Linked DNA regions of Homo sapiens. Each later gene encodes a partner of the first gene's protein in a complex. Each region holds a gene or a part of one and is shown in the gene's direction. Other genes may lie near its edges.

What was found. The genes of interacting proteins can lie anywhere in the genome.
Region 2: MED13L (region 1) and MED24 share a complex: the UniProt entries of both Homo sapiens proteins name them as parts of the mediator complex.
Region 3: MED13L (region 1) and MED4 share a complex: the UniProt entries of both Homo sapiens proteins name them as parts of the mediator complex.

The regions. Positions count from the first base shown.
Region 1 is NC_000012.12:115,987,681-115,994,713, reverse strand, and holds part of MED13L (mediator of RNA polymerase II transcription subunit 13-like), read left to right. Parts: intron 1-2,756; coding exon 2,757-3,694; intron 3,695-7,033. UniProt on the Homo sapiens protein: Component of the Mediator complex, a coactivator involved in the regulated transcription of nearly all RNA polymerase II-dependent genes.
Region 2 is NC_000017.11:40,030,403-40,037,435, reverse strand, and holds part of MED24 (mediator of RNA polymerase II transcription subunit 24), read left to right. Parts: intron 1-1,281; coding exon 1,282-1,320; intron 1,321-1,640; coding exon 1,641-1,714; intron 1,715-2,086; coding exon 2,087-2,319; intron 2,320-2,463; coding exon of another isoform or gene 2,464-2,520; intron 2,521-3,979; coding exon 3,980-4,091; intron 4,092-4,229; coding exon 4,230-4,380; intron 4,381-4,673; coding exon 4,674-4,787; intron 4,788-5,345; coding exon 5,346-5,393; intron 5,394-5,815; coding exon 5,816-5,898; intron 5,899-6,190; coding exon 6,191-6,277; intron 6,278-7,033. UniProt on the Homo sapiens protein: Component of the Mediator complex, a coactivator involved in the regulated transcription of nearly all RNA polymerase II-dependent genes.
Region 3 is NC_000013.11:48,078,099-48,085,131, reverse strand, and holds part of MED4 (mediator of RNA polymerase II transcription subunit 4), read left to right. Parts: intron 1-1,703; coding exon 1,704-1,761; intron 1,762-3,400; coding exon 3,401-3,487; intron 3,488-5,138; exon of another isoform or gene 5,139-5,156; coding exon 5,157-5,288; exon of another isoform or gene 5,289-5,355; intron 5,356-7,033. UniProt on the Homo sapiens protein: Component of the Mediator complex, a coactivator involved in the regulated transcription of nearly all RNA polymerase II-dependent genes.

The DNA.
Region 1 (7,033 bases):
ACAGTTGCCAATAAATGACATAGCAGTTTTAAGAACCCATTCAGCAGTTTAATCTCTTTCATACATACAGGTTTCCCCAAAAAGGTCACATGCAAGCTTTTGCTGTGTAATCGTTTAAATCATTTAGGTCATTATTTAGATCTATTACATCTTTCATTTGCCATCCCAAAGATTCTTTGTATTCTTAACTGGCTCTATTATACAACTTTATGTGATGAAGGTTTTGTTTTTGTTTTTGTTTTTGTTTTTTGGGGGGGTTTTTTGGAGACAGGGTCTCGCTCTGTCACCTGGGCTGGAGTACAGTGGCACAATCACAGCTCACTGCAGCCTTGACCTCCTGGGCTCAAGTGATCCTCCCACATCAGCCTCCTGAGTAGCTGGGACTACAGGCACGTGCCACCACACCCAGCTAATTTTTATGAAATTTTGTTGTAGAGTTTGTGTCTCCCTGTGTTGCCGACACTGGTCCTGAACTCCTGGGTTCAAGTGTTTCTCCTGCCTCGGCCTCCTAAAGTGTTGGGATTATAGGCATGAGCTACTGCACCTGGCATGTAGGTGATTCCTGTCTGCACTGTCCACTATGGCAGTCATCAGCTTCCTGCTGCAGGTGTTGACCACTTGAAATGTGGCTAGTGAGACCAAGACTGAATTGTTTTATGTTAATTAATTTAAATTTAGGACATGGGGACTGGTGGCTACCTTATTGGACAGTATGTTTCCAGCATATGTGTAATCCTGCTGTGGTCTCTGCTCGCCATCACCCTGGACTCCTCCTTTGTCACATGCAATACCCCTGCAATCATTTGCTTCATGTCTGCCATACTTGCTTATGAGCCACCTTTTGTTTCTCTTTTTCACTTTTGACTATCCAGCTTCTAGCGTAGGGTTGCTACTCAGTTCATTTTTATTAAATGGGAAAAATCAGATTACAAGATAAACCATTCTTACTACCCAGGGAGCAATTTAATTCTTTAGGTTTTCAGTTAGTACTCATAGTTCCTTTTCTGATCTGAACTGCGTAATAATTTTAGGGTTTTGTTGAACAGGAGAATTTGAAAGGAGTCCAGTTAGAGTAAAGATCGTTATTACACACTTAACTATTTTGGTCTCTAAGAGAGCAGTGATTGCCAATCAAGTTTTCTGGGTCATTTTTTTTTTTTTATCTGTACTCAAAGATACCACTGTGCCTCAGATTTAATATTTCTTTACAGTGCCTGATTTGGACTTTTAGGCTGGTAGTTTAGGCATAGCTAATTAAAAATCACAAGGAAATTATTTGAAGAGACATTTCTTTATGACGTGCTTCTTTCACATTATAAGTAACTGAATATGTAGTTTATTGGAGGAGCATTAGTTTAAGTACAGTATTAATATATATAAAAGGATATTAAAAAATTTTAAAAATATTCTTTTGATACCTTCTAAGTAGGAAGAATGGACTCATATGCTAATATACATATACATCTAAGAAAGTACAGTTGTCCCTTGGTATCCTTGGGGGATTGATTCCAGGACCCCCTCGGATACCAAAATCTGAAGATGCTCAAGTACCCTATATAAAATGGCAGAGTATTTCCTTGTAATTTACACAAATCCCTCTGTATACCTTAAGTCATCTCTGGATTACTTGTAATGCCTAATACAATGTAAATGCTATATAAATGTTGTACTTTACTGTTTTGATTTGTGTTTTTTAACTGTTGTTTTTTTTTTAATTGTATTTTTATTTTGATTTTCCATCTGTATATGGCTGAATCCACAGATGTGGAACTTGTGGCTATAGAGGGCCAACTGTATATCAAGAAAATGTTTTATGATAATGAAACAGCAGAACCTTGCAGACAGTGTTTTCTGCCTAGCTGTTCCAAAAAGAAGTCACTGCTTATGAGAAAGTAGATAACATAGCCCAGTCAGTCTTGGGCAACTAAAATAATTACACTATATGCAATGCATACCATATTGAAAAGTGAAAAATGAAGTGCTTACCACCCCACAGAAAGCTGCTGGAAGCTGGAAACTCTGATACAGTATGTGTACTTCTGTGCAACCACCTAATTAATACTGAGGCCTCTTAGCCGCATATGTAATATTTCTATCAGTTGTAGTATAGTACTGGTAAATGGGCTACCTAAAATATAATTCCCTCATGGTCACTCATTACTATAAAAATGTAAGCCTAGATAGGGCTGCATTTTGAAAATTAGAAAAATGTTAAATTTTCATGTGTATTTGATTATAACTACTTTGATATGATATATAGATTATAGCCTCAGAGAACAAGTACACTGGCAGACTTTGAATTTCAAAAAAAAAATGACAAAAATGTAATTGCAAATTAGATGGAAATTTCATCCTATGGTCCTCTAGCTAATTTAGTGTCTGCACTTATGGTTGAAGTTCCATTTAGTAGTTAACTTTTCAAATTACATTGACCAAACCCAGTACCATGTTTTCTTATAAAAATAGTAAAAGTTCCTTCAAGAGGTTAGGATGAGGATGCTTATATGTGGAATAAGTAGAAGGAAAGTGCTGTGTTGAATTATTCTTCATACCTTACTTTCTTCTTCTCTACACACTGCACTGACCTTTGTATCTTCTTTTTTTTTTTTAAGAGAAAATTAAATATACCAGTGTATCCCAGTGATAGCAGAAACAAATGATAAGAAATACACAGTACATGGCTGGGGTGATCATGTGTCTAGTTCAGCATCTGTGACATGCTGCCCTTCCTCACTTGGTGCCTTCTCTTTTTGTAGTAACGTGCCTAGTGTTGGGAGCCTAGCAGATCCAGACTATCTGAACACACCACAGATGAACACACCCGTGACGTTGAACAGCGCTGCCCCAGCCAGCAATAGTGGGGCAGGAGTCCTACCATCTCCAGCAACCCCTCGCTTCTCTGTCCCCACACCACGAACCCCCAGGACCCCAAGAACTCCCAGAGGTGGGGGCACTGCCAGTGGTCAAGGGTCTGTTAAGTATGATAGCACCGATCAAGGATCACCAGCCTCCACCCCCTCTACTACACGGCCCCTCAACTCTGTGGAGCCCGCCACCATGCAGCCAATTCCCGAAGCCCACAGCCTCTATGTTACCCTGATTCTCTCCGATTCCGTGATGAATATCTTTAAAGACAGAAACTTTGACAGCTGTTGCATCTGTGCCTGCAACATGAACATCAAAGGGGCGGATGTCGGGCTTTACATCCCCGATTCTTCCAATGAGGACCAGTACCGCTGTACCTGTGGGTTTAGTGCGATTATGAACCGCAAACTTGGCTACAATTCAGGACTCTTCCTTGAAGATGAGTTGGATATTTTTGGGAAGAATTCTGATATTGGTCAGGCTGCAGAGAGGCGCTTAATGATGTGTCAGTCCACCTTCCTTCCTCAGGTGGAAGGAACCAAAAAACCCCAGGAGCCACCCATAAGCCTTCTCCTCCTCCTCCAGAATCAACACACACAACCTTTTGCTTCACTGAATTTCCTGGACTACATTTCCTCTAACAATCGCCAAACTCTTCCCTGTGTAAGCTGGAGTTATGACCGGGTGCAAGCAGATAATAATGATTACTGGACGGAATGCTTTAATGCGTTGGAGCAGGGGCGGCAGTATGTGGATAACCCCACTGGTGGAAAAGTGGACGAAGCTCTGGTGAGAAGTGCCACTGTGCACTCTTGGCCTCACAGCAATGGTAGGTGTCCCAGAACACAAATTTACTTTGAGGAGTATCTTGGTATGATCATAACTTAAAAGCTTTCTTTACTGTATTTGACAAAAAATTTTAATTTCATGTCTTTCGGGGGAAAAAAAAGAACCTAAAGTGAGAGCTGTATTGATTTTATCCTAAACTTATGGACTGGGAGAATGTTTTATATTGAAATGCCTTTGGAGAAGAGTAATTGTTTTCTGAAATTTTCCTCTTGTAACTCATAAGTAAGCAGTCTATGTTGGGAACCTGTGACCGCTGAGTATCAGAGTCGTCAGGAGCTTACAGACTGATAATTTGCACACTCTTGCATGCTTAAATCCACCATTCTTCCAGATCAAGTTTCCAAGGAACCTCTTCCATGAAGCCTTCTAGCCATTTCCAGAGTCTCTTCTCCCTTCTCTGTTTTCCCCCTTTGTTGTATCACTTATAACAAAATCACATTTTACTTTGCATTGTGGTTACTGGGGCATATAACTGGTTGTATTATTAAAAGCTCCAGTGAAGTTGGGCTGTAAGAGTGCCAAGCAACTTGCTGTTTCCTTTTCTTACTCATTCACTGCCTAAACTGCAATGCATCATGGGGGATAAAATGGTTACTGAAAGAAACAAGGCACTTACCCTCATGGACTTTCTAATCTATTCTGGAAGTGGACATCAATTAAATAATTACACAAGCACGCATATTATTACAACCCATTTTATAAGTGATAAAAGCATGGGATAGACGGGGCACTCTAGGCTGAAGGTCAGAGAAGACTTCGTTGTAGAAGTAGTAACATTTGCTCAGAGATCTCAATGATGAGTACACATTAACTGAGGAAGGAGAATGGGGAGCGAGGCATGTGTCCCAGACAGGAGGTGCTGCAAGTGGGAAGGCCCTTGGTTGTATGGAGCTTGGGGCCTTTAGAAACTGACGCGAGGTTAGAAGCATGCAGGGGCTAGATTACAGTGACTCTTTAGAGGCATGCTAGGGGTTGGGTCTTCCTGCAAAAAGCAATACAAAGTCATTGAAAGGTTTTAAGAAGAAGCACTGATGTCAGATTTGTGTAGTTAAAAAGGAAAAATAACAATGTGCACTGGCTATAATTCTGGGTATGGATTAGAAAGTGGCAGGAATGGATTTGGGGAGACAAGGAGGTTAGTGAGGAAGACCTAGTAAGAAACAATAGCTTGCCTTAGTGTCCTTGTGAAGAAGGTGGAGAAGAAATATTATTGCAGGACTCAATAGTGAGTTGAGTTTTGGGGATAAGGGAAAGAGAGATGTTGAGGAGTCCCAGATTTGTTACTTGTATACCTGGATAGTCAGTGGTGTTCAAAGATAAGACTATATCTGGAGAGAAAGTTTATAAATTGAGTTGTGGAAGTTTGGAAGTTTTAAAGATCCCTTTTGATATATCCAGGTAGAGGTATCAAGTAGACTCTTGGGCCTTTTGCTCAGGGGAGAGGGAGTGGTTGGCATATAGGTGATAACTTCAATTAAGGGGGCACAGATGAGCTCATTGAGGAGGAGGAGAAAAGTATAGACGAGAAGAGGACCTGGTAGAGCTTAGCTACATTCTGACGGGTATAGGTGAGGCAGAGAAGCGTGAGCCTATCAAGCAGAGAAGGAAGAACCATAGAGGGGGCTTTTGGAAGCCAGGGGTAGCCAGTGTTTCAAGAAAGAGGAAGTGATTGACAGGCATTAAAATGCAAGTGAAGATTTTAAGATAAGGATTAAACATGTCTTCTGACCGTGGTGAGAGCTGTTTCTGTAGAGTGGTGGGAGCAGAGGCCAGACTGGAAGGGTTGTGTGAATGATGTGCGAACCCGGCTTCTGAACAACTCTCAGTCTTGCAGGGAAGAAAGTTATATAAGCTTCTTAAATACAGTTTGAAATCTGAAGTAATTAAAAGTATGTCCAGAGGTCAGTAGAGTATGGGGAGTGATGGGTATTTTCTGACTAGGCCAATCAAGGAAGCTTTCATGGAGGTAGAGATGACTAAGAAAGCATTAAAGGGTTATGCTCATTTGTATAACTGCTTAGGTTCAAGCACAGTGCCTTATACTTAAGCAGACCCTTAATCAGTTTCTACTGAATGAATTTATGAAGTGAAGAAAATGCAGCCTTTCCCCTAAAGAAATGTGGATGATCAGCTTGGGTGAGTCCTTTTACTAGATAGGCCTTCGGACAGAAAAGCAGTCTGTGTGCATGAATCAGTGGTGTCGTCTTTCAGGATGAAAAATAAGACATTTTATTGCAGGGGAGGTCTGGGTTTCAAATTTTAAGATGCCTAAAAGTACCAGATAATGTAAATGAATGTGATGGGAGACATTTGCAAAAGGCAGTGCCTTAAGCTGTCTTTTCAAAACTCACTTTCTATTTTGCAGGCACAGGAATAGGGTTCATAAGAAACGTGCTTGCTTTTAGTTTCCTCAAATCTGTGGTTCTCTTGGTCTGTGATTTCCTGCTTTTGATAGAGCCATTAATACAAGAAGTATTCACTGTTGTTGTTTACTATATGTAAAAAGAAGCACTGGCTGAAGATAAAAGGCAATGAAAACTGCATCAGACTCAGGACAGACAGCAGGGAAGGGGCCATGAGGTGCCTGAGAGGGACAGCTGCTCCTCAGCTCCAGCAAGTGGTGGTTATGCAGGAATATGGGTCTCCCAGTTCAAGGGAAGCTGGCAATCTAGATTTGTGTGTGAAATTTCCTGGAGTGATTTGTTCCAAAGTTTAACAAAATATTCTGTGGACCACCACTTTGCAACCTGTGTTTTACTGATTTAGGGACACGTTTGAAAATGTCTTAAGAATCCTTAATCATCCTGTGTTTCAAATTTAGTTGGCAGATAAATCTTAGATTTCTTTCCATGCCCCTTCCCTCATCAGCTAGAAGGGTAAGAGGGAGGCAGAGTCTTCAGGAATCCAGCTGTGCAGATTCACACCACATCACCTCCAGCGTCATTAGCTCTTTCTGCAGACCTTTTTAAGAATCTGATTTGCATGATGAACCCTCCATCCTGAGAAAAAAATACGTATGTCCAAGCGTGCTTGCACAGTTTTGCATGGAGTTCAGACAACTTTCAAATTTTAGGTTAGAAATCCCTCCCCAGGGCGACTGCTGGGACTAAAGTCATCTGCATTTAGAAGGCAGTGAATCCCATCCGTGCCTGCAGCGGACTTCGGTCCTTGAGGGCTTCAGCTGTGTTTCCCTGTGCCTCTGGCTGCACTGAAGATTGGCCTTCTCTTCATGCATTCTGTATTTTGTGAAAATATTTTTACAATTAGGAGCATTTAAAGAGTTTTTAAAAGCTTTTATTTAAGTTCCATTTTTTCCTAC
Region 2 (7,033 bases), on another chromosome or scaffold:
TTTAGTGGGGACTGCAGGCACCCGCCGTGTAATGATGAGCCTTAGGTGATTACTTGGAGCACAGAGGAAGGGTTTCAGCTTTGTGGGGGAGGTTGGGGTTGATCAGGGAAGGTGTCCTGGATGGGTCCTAGGGAGTAAGTTCTGGAGAACAAATAAGAGTTTGTACAGTAAAACTTACTCTTTCCTTCTTTCCTTCTTTCCTTCCTTCCTTCCTTCCTTCCCTCTTTCTCTCTCTCTCCCTCCCTTTCTTTTCTTTTGACAGAGTCTCACTCTGTCACCCAGGTTAGAGTGCGGTGGCAAGATTTCGTCTCACTGCAACATCCGTCTCCCAGGCTCAAGCAGCTCTCCTGCCTCAGCCTCCCAAGTAGCTGAGATTACAGGCATAGGCCACCAGGCCCAGCTAATTTTTGTATTTTTAGTAGAGACAGGGTTTCACCATGTTGGCCAGGCTAGTCTTGAACTCCTGACCTCAGGTAATCCTGCCTCAGCCTCCCAAAGTACTGGGATTACAAACGTGAGCCACCACGCCCAGCCACTCCCTGTTTCAAGGTGCAGGTACTACCTGCTCAGTGCAGGAAATGTTTGTTTGTCTCTAGTTCTTACCCATTAAAACCTCTGTTCTTGCCGGAAGCTGTAGGAATACAGTGACATGGCTTCACTCTTGCCCATGCTTCTGCCCACTAGCCGTCAGTTAACCCATGCTTATTGAGGACAGTGAGTAGCAGGCGCTTTTTTTTTTTTTTTTTTTTGAGACAGAGTCTCGCTCTGCTCCCAGTCTGGACTGCAGTGGCACAATCTCGGCTCACTGCAACCTCCAACTCCCTGATTCAAGCGATTCTCCTACCTCAGCCTCCTGAGTAGCTGGGATTATAGGCACGCACCACCACACCCAGCTAATTTTTAATTTTTAGTAGAGACGGGGTTTCACCATGTTGGGCGGGATGGTCTCAAACTCCTCACCTCGTGATCCGCCCGCCTCGGCCTCCCAAAGTTTTGGGATTACAGGCATGAGCCACCATGCTCGGCCTGAAACATGGAGCCTTTGAGCATCCCCAGAATCATCTTCTTGATGGGCTTATGCTGATACCATTTGCAGTAAGTCTGACAGAGGCAGGAACAGGGCAGTGCACAGTGACACTGCCTCTCCTTGCTTGGGTTGAAGAGGGCCTGTGGAAGGGGTTGAGGTTCAGGAGAGCTGCAGCAACTTGAAGCATCAGTGTTTGTTCCTCTCAACTGTGGGAGACTAGTTGTCTAAAGATTATCTTTCTTCCTTCTCTCCAGATGGTGTCCTACTCTTCTGTCCTCACAGCCATCAGTAAGGTATGACCATAGACACTCAGGAGCTAGATTGGGGATGACAGACAAGGCCCCGCCTCCTTGACGGCCCTGATGCTGTGACCCGTGAGGCTGGATAGGCAGCACATGATGCCTCTGGCTGGCATTGCTGGACTTCCATGGGAGGGGGATCCTGGCAAGTAGGGGCTGGTGCTTGGGAGCCAATGTCCAGTGTTGAGGATGCTGAGTCTGGAACCCAGGGTTGGAGGAGAGAGGAGCAGGAGTCCTGAATGCACCGTCTGCCTCATGTGAGACCTGGGGGTGGATGGAGGCATTCCGTAGCATCTCCACTGTCCTTTCCACAGTTTGATGACTTTTCTCGGGACCTGTGTGTCCAGGCATTGCTGGACATCATGGACATGTTTTGTGACCGTCTGAGGTAAGGGCAGGGGTAAGGGGGCTCACAATACAATGTTCCAGCCTTGTCTTTGTGCAGAGGTGCAGCTCCTAGCACACAGACCGAGACCAACTCCGGGTTCCAACGTTTTTTCTCCCCACCTGCCCATCTACACTTACCTGTGCCCTCCTTTTCTTACTCCCTTAGGACAGAGTGCCTCCTCTCTGTCTGGAGTAGCTCATTTGAAATCTTGTCCAGTAGGAGCCAAAGGGGCTAAGCATCTTCCCCAGGACTTTGCTAGCTTCTCAGCCCTAGTCCCTAGTAGGGGAGTGCCAGGGACTCTGGGGAACATTGATGTGGGTCGGATTTCAGCCATTGGAAGAACAGAGTCTGATTTTGCATCCTTCCCTGTAGCTGTCACGGCAAAGCAGAGGAATGCATCGGACTGTGCCGAGCCCTTCTTAGCGCCCTCCACTGGCTGCTGCGCTGCACGGCAGCCTCTGCAGAGCGGCTGCGGGAGGGGCTGGAGGCCGGCACTCCAGCCGCTGGGGAGAAGCAGCTTGCCATGTGCCTTCAGCGCCTGGAGAAAACCCTCAGCAGCACCAAGAACCGGGCCCTGCTGCACATCGCCAAACTAGAGGAGGCCTGTATGTCCCTTGATTCCCCTGAGCCCCACCTGCCGCTGCTCCCATAGCCGGTCCTTTAATTGAGAAGGGAGAGGCAGGATGCCATCCCACCTCTTTCCAGGAGGATCTGAAACCATCCCACTTCCTTTTTTTTCTCCCCATAAGCATTGCACACATCCCAGGGACTTGGGCAGGGTGGCACCCGAGCCAATCAACCAACAGGTATTTACTGAGCATTGTTGTATACCCAGCACTGTGCTAGGTGCTGGGGGTGGGGGGTGGGGGGCTACCAAAGGAGCATGTGGCAGGGTCCCTGCCCTCATCAAGCATAGCTGCTAGTGGGTAGCAAGACTAGTACATCACAGACGAGGAAAAAACTAGAGGACAAGACAAGCACAGTGTCCATTATTGTGTTTGTCTCCATGTTACTCATCGCTTGGAAGCAGATGACTCTTGTATTTGAATGTTACCTAAAATGCCCCTTTTAACACAGTGCCTGTCTGCTGTTGGGCCTGTTGTACCATATGCCTCTTGACTCAAGTTCAGATGTTAAGTTTGGGTACTTTCCAGAGCCTGAGAACAGACAGATCACCTGGCGGGAGGGAAGATGCCAGTATTTCCAGCAATGGGGTCCTAAGGCCATAGTCTTGCTCCTTGAAGCCCAAGTGGCTTGGGACCACCTACAGGTCTCTTGTTCTCCAGGAACAAGAATGCTAGAATGGGCTACTCTCGAGGCTTCAGGACCTGGTTGGAGAGCTTGTTTTAGGACTAGTATATTTATTTCTTCCCCAAGTATGTTTTACTGCCTGTGAAAAGTCCAAAAAGACAATCTTTATATAAAAATGGACTGTGTTGACAGCCTCTTCCCTACCTTGGGCCCTTGATAAATGTTTATTGGCTGAAAATCGGATGAATACTGAATTTTAATGGATCTCAGGTCTTGTCTTTTTTTCCCCCTTTTATGCTCCATGGAGGTTAATGGGCTAGTTGGTGCCATTATTCATCATTTGACCCTCTGGAATTGTAACTAGGATAAGTAACTTATAGTTCAGTGCTAACCAATATGGCTTAGACCATGAGTGTGGGCATTAAGGAGAGAACAGTGAGTTAGACCAGTCGGGTGAGTTGCTAAAGGAACTGGGGCTTGAACAGAAGCTTAGAGCATGGTGGGAGTTTGAGAGAGAGTGTGTAAGAGGCCTTCAGCAGGGGAGGGCAGCAAACGCAATGCCTAGATGAGGGAGTGGTTGAGAATGAGAAAGCCATTTAGGGACCCAGTTCCCCCAGAGGAGAGTGACAGCCTCTGCAAGACTGGACTTTGGGATCCGCTCACTCCTCGAGTGATTTGTGGCCGCCCTCCCTGTTCCAGCCACTGGATTCTGGCCTCCCTCTGCCTCTCTCTCCTGAGCCTGTGTGATGCCATACCTTCTGAAGTCAGCTGGCTGTGTCCCCTGGAAATCAGGCTTTTGGGAATGGTCTCTGGGGTTTCCAGCTCTAGGTGCCCACCCCCCTTCTGGAAACAGTGCATGCTGCCCTCAGGCCCCTCCCTCCCTGTTGTCCTCAGGGGAAGCCTTCCTGTGTGGTTTCGTGTGCCGGAGGGAGTGCCAAAATCGAGGAGTTCAGGGCCAGGTGCTCCTTCTCTCCTGTTTCCCATCATGTTTCTGTACTTCCTTCCCTCTGCCAGCTTCTTGGACTGCCATCGAGCATTCTCTCTTGAAACTTGGAGAGATCCTGGCCAATCTCAGCAACCCGCAGCTCCGGAGTCAGGCCGAGCAGTGTGGCACCCTCATTAGGAGGTACCGGCTCCCTGGGGGATGGTGGAGAAGGGAGAGGGAGGACACGCCCTGGGGTAGGAAGATGTGGCACCCGTGCCATCCTCTCCGCCTTCACCTTTGGCCCCCCAAACACCGTCCCCTGTGTTTGTGACCCCTCAGCATCCCCACGATGCTGTCTGTGCATGCGGAGCAGATGCACAAGACCGGCTTCCCCACTGTCCACGCCGTGATCCTGCTCGAGGGCACCATGAACCTGACAGGCGAGACGCAGTCCCTGGTGGAGCAGCTGACGATGGTGAAGCGCATGCAGGTGGGAGGGGCCGAGTGGCTCTCCCTTCTCCAAGGCAGGCCAGCCTGTTGGGGGCAGGAGGGAGGATTCTTCTGGTTCTCCCTGGGAGAAGTGGGGTTTCTCCTGCTCCATGATGGAAAGTGGGTGCCAGTCGTGCACACTTCTGTCATTGGACCTTACTCCCCTGGTTCTCAGCACATAGCTGAGCAGTGACTCTGCCATGCAGTCTCTGACCCAGCCAAATCCTCAGAGTCCACAGAAGGGTGACGGGGTATGGGCACCCTCTTAGGCCTCATCCTTGGCTCTTCCCACAGCATATCCCCACCCCACTTTTTGTCCTGGAGATCTGGAAAGCTTGCTTCGTGGGGCTCATTGAGTCTCCCGAGGGTACGGAGGAGCTCAAGTGGACAGCTTTCACTTTCCTCAAGGTACTGGGGACGTGGGAGGGGCAGAGCCAGTCTAGGAATGGTTCTTAGCAAGACCAGTGGCACCCTGGACCTTTGCCCTGTGTTCCTCCCTGCGGGCACTGGGCCCAGCCTGCCAGGTATTCCAGTGCAAGTTCCCATTGATCATTTTCTCTGAAAGTGCCAGGGCTATATTTAGCCCATTTGGCAGACTCCGTTGTTTCTTACCACAGAGGTGCAGTTTAGCTTGGTCATCAGACAGATAGGTGCAGGGCAGTAAAGGGAGCCAGGGAAAGGGGCCCCAGTCCTCCTTGAAGCTGGGGATCCACTTTTGCTTATGGCATCTTTTTCTGTTGAGCTAGCGGAGGTGCAGGGTGCTTGTGTCCTGTGCCTAGGCCTGGGGGCATCAGGGGCCTGGGCACCTATTGGCTTTCTCATTTAGCACTAAGTGTGCTCTCACTCCCAGGGTAGGAGTGTTCCTGTCTCTCTTCCTGGAGCAGGGGTTCGGGGGGATGCCTTCAGGGGTAGATGAAAGAGAAAAGAAATGGATCTTCCTGTTTTTCCCCCTGCCTCACCCCCTAGATTCCACAGGTTTTGGTGAAGTTGAAGAAGTACTCTCATGGAGACAAGGTGAGTTGGGGATTGAGATGGAGGCATGGGAGCAGAAATAAGGGCAAAGGGGAGGGTCCTTCAGGCCCCAGCTGGGCAGTGTTCTCATGCCTGGAAGAGAGCCGGATGTGAGTGTACACCTCAGCGTGCACGTGCTTCACAATGTGCATGCTTCAGCATGTGCGTGTGCTTCAGCATGTGCGTGTGCTTCAGTGTGTGCGTGCTTCAGTGTGTGTGTTTCAGCGTGTGTGTGCTTCAGCGTGTACGTGTGCTTCAGCCAGTGTGTGTGCTTCAGCGTCTGCGTGCACCCACAACATACACCCAGGCTCCAGGCAGAAAGCAGCCAGGCAACTCAGGCCGATGCCTCCAGCAGACAAGGTTGCCTGAGATGATCAGGGCCTGGTGGCCCTGGAAACCAGATGGACACTTCTGCCTCTTTCTAGGACTTCACTGAGGATGTCAACTGTGCTTTTGAGTTCCTGCTGAAGCTCACCCCCTTGTTGGACAAAGCTGACCAGCGCTGCAAGTATGAGCTCCCCTGGTCACCCCCGCCCTACTGGAAGGCGTTCTGGGCTCTTCCCCTGATCTCTGTGCCAGAGAAGCCTCAGGGGACTCTGTCTCCTTGTTCACTCCCCTTGGCAGGGGCAGGAAATAGGAGCCCACAGTTGCCAAGTCCCCAGAGCCCCTCTACCGTCCCTCAGGCACTCCAGATTTTCCTCATCCTGAAAGAGGGAGGATGCTGCTCAGGGACCTGCCACTCCCACCCCTCACCATCCTATCCAGGTGCCCAGTTCCCTCAGCATCTTTCTCCCTCACAGCTGTGACTGTACAAACTTCCTGCTCCAAGAATGTGGCAAGCAGGGGCTTCTGTCTGAGGCCAGCGTCAACAACCTTATGGCTAAGCGGTAAGTGTGAACGCACCTGTGCTACCCCAAGAGCCCCTTGACCTCTCTCTTGTTACGGTGGGGCTGCTGCGTGCCTTTCAACCTCCTGTCGAAAGTTTGGGCTGCAAGTGACTGGGACCGTGCCTGGGGGTACAGGGAACAGGAAGGAAAAGAAAGCACAGATGTCTTCAGACCAGAGTTTTACACTCTTAGTCACTGCTCTTTAACTCATACCCATCTTTGTGATAAAAGTAAAAATCCTAGGCTGGAGGCGGGTGGATTACTTGGAGGCCAGGAGTTCAAGACCAGCCTGCCCAACATGGCAAAACCCCATGTCTACTAAAAATACAAAAATCAGCTGGGCGTGGTGGTGTGTGCCTGTAATCTCAGCTACTCTGGAGGCTGAGGCACGAGAATTGCTTGAACCCAGGAGGCGGAGATTGTGGTGAGGCGAAATCATGCCACTGCACCCCAGCCTGGGCGATAGAGTGAGACCTTGTCTCAAAAAAAAAATAAATAAATAAATAAAAATCCTGAATCTTCCTTTAATCTTAAATGTGCTTTCAGAGCATTTAAGACTAATGATAGGCCGGCTGCGGTGGCTCACACCTGTAATCCCAGCATTTGGGAGGCCAAGGCGGGTGGATCACGAGGTCAGGAGTTTGAGACCAGCCTGGCCAACGTGGTGAAACCCCATCTCTACTAAAAATACAAAAATTAATCAGGCGCGATGGTATGCACCTGTAATTCCAGCTACTCAGGAGGCTGAGGCAGGAG
Region 3 (7,033 bases), on another chromosome or scaffold:
TTTGGGAAGCCAAAGTGGGCAGATCACCTGAGGTCGGGAGTACAAGACTAGCCTAGTCAACATGGTGAAATCCATCTCTACTAAAAATACAAAAAAATTTAGCTGGGCATGGTGATTCACGCCTGTAATCTCAGGTACTTGGGAGGCTGAGGCAGGAGAATCTCTTGAACCCGGGAGGCAGAGGTTGCAATGAACTGGGATCACCCCACTGCACTCCAGCCTGGGCGACAGAGGGAGACTCTGTCTCAAAATATATTATTTATATGTTTGTATATATTATATATATATTAAAATCTGTAAATATGTATATAAAAATCCTTATGTATGTAATACTTGCTTATCAAACAAAATTCAGAAAATACAGAAAAATGGAAAGAAGAGGGAAAAAATTGTCTTTAGTTCAGCTGCGGAAAGAATGCCACTATTCATAGTTTGGTCTATTTCCTTTGAGTCTCAGGTGTATTAATTTTTTAGGTAATTGTAGTTAGCAGGATACTAACAGACTTTCAATTACTGTTTATTGAAACTTAAGCATTTTTCATATAATTGTATCCACTTTGTTTGATTTTCCCACTTTGTGTTATAAATAATTAAAGACAGTGAACACAGGACCATAAAACTGAATTTCATGACTTAAATAGTAGTAACTAACATTGATTGAGCACTTAGGCACCAGGCCCTGTGCCTTGCATTTTATATGCATTACTTCCATCTTCCTAACAGTTTATATCAAGTCAGTGTCGTCATTTAGAGGAAGAAACCAATACTTTAATAACTAACTTGCCCATGGAGGCTAAAAAGTAGATTGAATTTAAACCTTGATCTCTCTGACTCCATACTCTTTTTTTTTTTTTTTTTTTTTTTTTGAGACAGAGTCTTGCTCTTGCTCTATTGCCCAGGCCAGAGTGCGATGGCACAGTCTTGGCTCACTGCAACCTCTGCCTCCTGGGTTCAAGCGATTCTCCTGCCTCAGCCTCCCAAGTAGCTGAGATAGGCGTGTGTCACCATGCCCATATAAATTTTTTGTATTTTTAGTAGAGATGGGTTTTTACCGTGTTGGTCAGGCTGGTCTCAGACTCCTGATCTCAAATGATCTGCCTGCCTCGGCCTCCCAAAATGCTGGGATTACAGGTGTGAGCCATTGTGCCTGGCCTGACTCCATACTCTTAACCACAGTGTCATAGTCGAAGATATGCATATACTAGGTTAACTTCATTTTGTCCTTTAGTGTACCTGAGGGCTTGGAGGGAGTGTTTTTGTGATAAAGTCATTAAACATTGAGCTGATATATAAACGAATAAGAATATGAATTCAAGGTTGTATCTTCCAAACTAGGGGAAAAAAGGGTATTTTATTCTTGAACTAGTTGCAAGAATAGGATGCTTTTGGGGTCGTCCATAGTCTGGGTGTCTTCTGCATGTTTATGGTAGAAGACGTGAAGAAAAAGACAATCCAATTTATGTTTTGTTTCTACAACTAATTTGTGAATGGGAGACTAGTTCATAAATATAATATTTCTTTCATTAAATATGACTGAAATAAATAATGTCAAGTGGTATTTCAGAACATTACAAATAAATTGTTGGGATTTCCAAGTTTCAAAGATTGTTCTTGTAGGCTAAAGGATCTTGTGAATTAAGCCAAAAACTAAGTTTGATATAGTTGAAGAATAAACCACGTTTTTTAAATGTTGTTTAAATTAGGCAACAGCTGTTTACCAAGCGAAGGAGAAACTCAAGTCAATAGAAAAAGCAAGAAAAGGTTAGTATCATGGGAAGACTGAATGACCTGAAAAGTTAAGGTTCTGGTTTCAGGAAACCAATACAAGAGGATATTACTGATAATCATTTGCTGCTGTTGAAAAGATTCAGTAAATTTTTATTGTAAAGTGTGTTGTGTTCTAGCATTGTGCTGGGTTTTGTGAGGGAGGTAGAAGTATCACATCTTTTTTCAGATTATAAAAAGCAATTAATACAAGGCAGTTTATGGCTGTGTGCCCAAATGTGCAGTAAAAACAGTGAGTTTATAAAATTGGTGGGAGAGGGAAAGAGAAGTATGGGTTAGAAGTGGGATTTGTACCAAATCTTGAAGGTTAGGACAGAGAGAGTGAAAAGACATCCATTGGGCAACTGCGCTGGGACTGAAACATCATGAAGTCAGAGCCAGACGTACATGAAGTCAGAGCCAGTTATACCCTTGGCATATAAGCACATTTGGTGGTGCAGAGGCCCACATGCCTTCCTGCCCTGCTGTCCCTTTTTCAAAGGCTTCTGTTAAATAGCTAATACTCCTTTTTTTTTTTTTTGAGACGGAGTCTCGCTCTGTCGCCCAGGCTGGAGTGCAGTGGCGCGATCTCGGCGCACTGCAAGCTCCGCCTCCCGGGTTCACGCCACTCTCCTGCCTCAGCCTCCCGAGTAGCTGGGACTACAGGCGCCCGCCACCACACCCGGCTAATTTTTTGTATTTTTAGTAGAGACGGGGTTTCACTGTGTTAGCCAGGATGGTCTTGATCTCCTGACCTCGTGATCTGCCCACCTCGGCCTCCCAAAGTGCTGGGATTACAGGCATGAGCCACTGCGCCCAGCCAAATAGCTAATATTCTTTTGAGAGTTAGGTTAGGCTTCTGTAGCAAGAAACAAATCTCTAGGAGAGATGGCTGAGGCTGGCTGTTGACTTCTAGACCGTTGTTTGATTCTGTTTTTAATCTTCAAAAACTGTACACACATACACTTTGTTACATTGAAACAGTATCTAAAGTTTGTAAAATGAAGTGTGTGGTTCTCACTTCTCAGAGGTAACTATTAATGTTTGGTATATGTCCTAGATTTTTTTTTTCTAGATCTGTGAGTATGTATGTAATAAAAATACAAATACACATATGTACATACATTTTGAACAGTCGGGTCATACCGTACATATTATTTAGCAGTTTAGTTTTTTTTTTTACCTAATGAATACATTGTAGACATCTTTCTATTTAGGTCTACTTAAGAGCCTTAGGGCATATTGATCGAACAGAGTGGTGTGAACTGTCTGCTCTGATTTCATAGCTTGGATGTCTTTGAGAAATGAAACACTGTTTTCTCTATTTTATTTGTGCTCACTATGCTTTCAGAAGAGGAATGGTATTTAACGGTAGTTAATAATTGAGATTATTGAGTGCTATGGTGCTAATCTCCGAAATTTGTTTATGTCAGCTAATTTTTCTGGATTAGTGTCCTGTTTTTGGAGATTTAAGTTTATACTAAACATGTAGGTATTGTTAAGGAAGGCAGGTGACTGAGATTATTTTATTTTCAGATAATTTAAAATTAAATACGATGTGTAACTGATAGATACATTTCTAAACTTGTATGTTTGTTAGACTACAGGTTATACTGTCCTCTTAAAACTCTTTCAGGTGCTATCTCCTCTGAAGAAATAATTAAGTATGCACATAGGATCAGTGCAAGTAATGCTGTATGTGCTCCACTGACCTGGGTTCCAGGTAAACATACTCGTCTTATTATACTAGATATATGTGGTTTTGAAGATTCTTAGGTGACTATGTACAGACATAGATTTAATTTAAAATGTATTTATCCTTAGAAACCTCTGCCACATATTTTCACATCTTTAATGGTTTATAAGTAATGATATAGGCCATGGGTTTTATAAATTTGGTTTTCTGTGAAGCCATTGTTGCTAGGGACTGTGTTTCTTTCGTCTTTTGAAATAATAAATTGATAATTTTTTAAAGTACGAGATAATAATGTGATGCTTCTAAAGCTTTGGATTTATATACCATTTTATCAGGGCTGGCCAGAAGCAAACTCTTTAGAGCCATTAGGATTTCCACAAAGGTTCCAGCCTGAGAAAGACAATTCCAGTTCTCTTAGATGCTAAAGACAAAGCACTACGCACCCAACAGTGAACATACAGGCTTGGAAAGAGCTGGGATAATTAGACAGCAAAAGAGAGGATCAAGCTGCAACTATATTGACAGTGGATGAAACATAAAACAGGAGACGTAAGGTAGCAGCCTTATTGGAGGAAGGGGAAATATTAGTAGTTATCTCCACTTCAAAATAACTTCTGAAGGTGCTGTGTTACCATGCTGAAAGCACTAAGGGTGACTATAATTTTGGGGATGGATAAGCTGCAGTTGGTGAGATGTGCCCAAAAAGTCAATCCAAATCTGGTCAAGTTTTTGTCAACCACATACTGCTATTTAGTGTGCTTTCATGTTTGGGATGGACATTACCTGCTCCTGCTATTTTGCCACTTACACGAATTAGTTTCTGAATTACAAGATCAAAGAGGTTGGTTAGAAAAAGGTTTTATCTTAGACAAGGTGGCATGAGGAAAATAAAAGTAAAACAAAAAGATGAAAAATGTAAAAAAAAAAAAAGATTTTAAATTGAGACAGTCCTTCTATTAAACATTCCAGTCCTTTCTGTCTTATAAGTGTCATGATTTTTTTCTCCCTTGCAGCATAATCATTGTCATTTTCTTGCTAGAAAATACAGTTAAGTTTGAATAATTGAGATTATTATAATTTTCTTAAGTTGTCATCTGGAATGTCTACAAAAAAATGACATCTCTTTTTTTTTAAAGTGTAGAAAATAGTATATTCTTGGGAAGATTCAGAAAAGAAATTAAAATGCGTGTATTTTAAAAAGTAATATGCTATTAATAACAATTTATAAGGTGACTTTTATATTTCTTTCTTTCTTTTTTTTTTTTTTTTTTTTTTGAGACAGGGTCTTGCTCTGTGGCCCAGGCTGGAGTGCAGTGGTGCAATCTCAGCTCACTGCAACCTCTGCCTCCCGGGTTCAAGCGATTCTCCTGCCTCAGCCTCCCGAGTAGCTGGGATTATAGGTGCGTGCCACCACGCCTGACTAATTTTCTTATTTTTAGTAGAGACGGGGTTTCACCATGCTGGCCAGGCTGGTCTTGAACTTCTGACTTGAGGTGATCCACCCACCTCGTCCTCCTAAAGTGCTGGGATTACAGGCGTGAGCCACTGCACCTGGCCAGATGACTTCTGTATTTCAAAATTGAAAATGTAGCCTGAACTTTTCAGCATGAACCAGCGAAAATGAGTATGTCAAATAACATATTAACACTTATTTTTTAAAATATGATTGAATTAAATGCAGTCTTTATTGTTTTAGGGGACCCCCGGAGACCCTACCCAACTGATTTAGAGATGAGAAGTGGGTTACTGGGTCAGATGAACAATCCTTCCACTAATGGCGTGAATGGCCATTTACCAGGAGATGCACTTGCAGCAGGAAGATTGCCAGGTAATGTTAAGCCGAAGAGTGTTTTCAAACAGATCAGGGTTTTCCAGAGATGACAAGGTTGGAATATCTGGCGGTAAAGCAAGTTTGAGATTCCCGACACAATTTTTTTTTTTTTGTAAATTTGAGACAGTCTTGTTATGTCACCCAGGCTGGAGCGTGTTGGCGAAATCTTGGCTCCCAGGTTCAAGTGATTCTTGTGCCTCAGCCTCCCGAGTAGCTGGGATTACAGGTGTGTGCCACCAGGCCTGGCTAATTTTTGTATTTTTAGTGGATATGGGGTTTCGCTCTGTTGGCCAGGCTGGTCTCGAACTCCTGACCCCAAGCAATCACCTGCCTCAGCCTCCCAAAGTACTGGAATTACAGGTGTGAGCCAGTGTGCCTGCCTCTCAGACCCAGTTCATTGTAATAGCTAGATTCTTTGCCGGTTTATTCTGCTCTAAAGATTCTCCTTGAGGGAGGTATGAAATTAGAACAAGCTGCCTTTCTCTTATTTGTAAATATTACACTGTCTTCCTCAGGCATTTGGCCTCTCTTTTTAAATTATTGCTCTAAACATAGCTTTTTTATAATTGTGAAACATGCTATGTAAATAGAGTAAGATAGTTTACGGAATAAAGTGAACACACTCCTGAACAACCCCCAAGTTAACAAAATGAATAACAATAGCTTTTTATAAACTTTTATAACTTTATAAAATAGTATTTCTGTGAGACCCAGTTCATTCTGAGCTTCAGTTTTCCTCAAGTTTTTCATAGGTTTGTGCTATTTTTATATATATTTGTTTTATATTATTCCTCATCTTTTATAGTTTGTAGGTGACTTTTGTTTTGATGTGGTAGAACATTTGGGAAGTAGAAAAAGGCATTTAAAAAAGGAAAAAAATATACCCTTTCTGAGGCAGTCACTTTAAATATTTTAGCCTGTTTCCTTTTTTCCCCTATACATTTTTTGCTTAATGTTACATCATAAGGCTGTCCCTGTGTCATTAATAATGCTTTGTATGCATCATTTTTGTTAGCTACCTAAAGTACAACCAGGGGAACTCAACTGTGATATCCTTGGATATCACCTCATATTTCTCATGTTTTAAAAGTACAGGAAAAACAGATATGGGGAGTCACTGCCACATTTTGGACCAAGGAAGGGACAGACCTAAAAACAGTCTTCCCCAGCTCCATCCCAAGGCCGATACTCTCATATCATGGTGCTGTCATTGGAGAGGGTGCAGTGTAATGTGGCCCACTCCATGGCAGAGAAGTTAGATGAGGCATCAGAGGCCAGAGCTGGCAAGCAGGAAATTACCCACTGGGGTTCCAGGGAGACTTGCTGGGAAGCTGCCCTTTGGGATTCTGGTGAAACCTGCTAGGAAACCACCTTTAGAGGCGCCACCGAAAGTTGCTGTGGTGAACACCACTTAATGTCCTGCACACCAACCAGGCATCACAGCAGTAAAGGAGACAAAACCACCTGATCCAGGAAGTGAAACTTGTTTGCTAGTGGAGTCCCACCTGTGCCCTCTACTGACAAAACTTAATTGTGGCAGCTGGCAAAGGAGAAATGGTTTCAGGGGCCAGAGAGAAGGGTAGATTTGAGGCTAACTGGCATACCTTTCTAGTTAATACCATAACTCTTTCTTTTGACCCTTTAAAAATCTGCCTTCTTTATTTGAGTCTTGAACTATACCTGTTTATGTGCTCTGTCCCTTTGCTTCAGAAATACAGACTTTAAATGTAACTTGGGCCCTT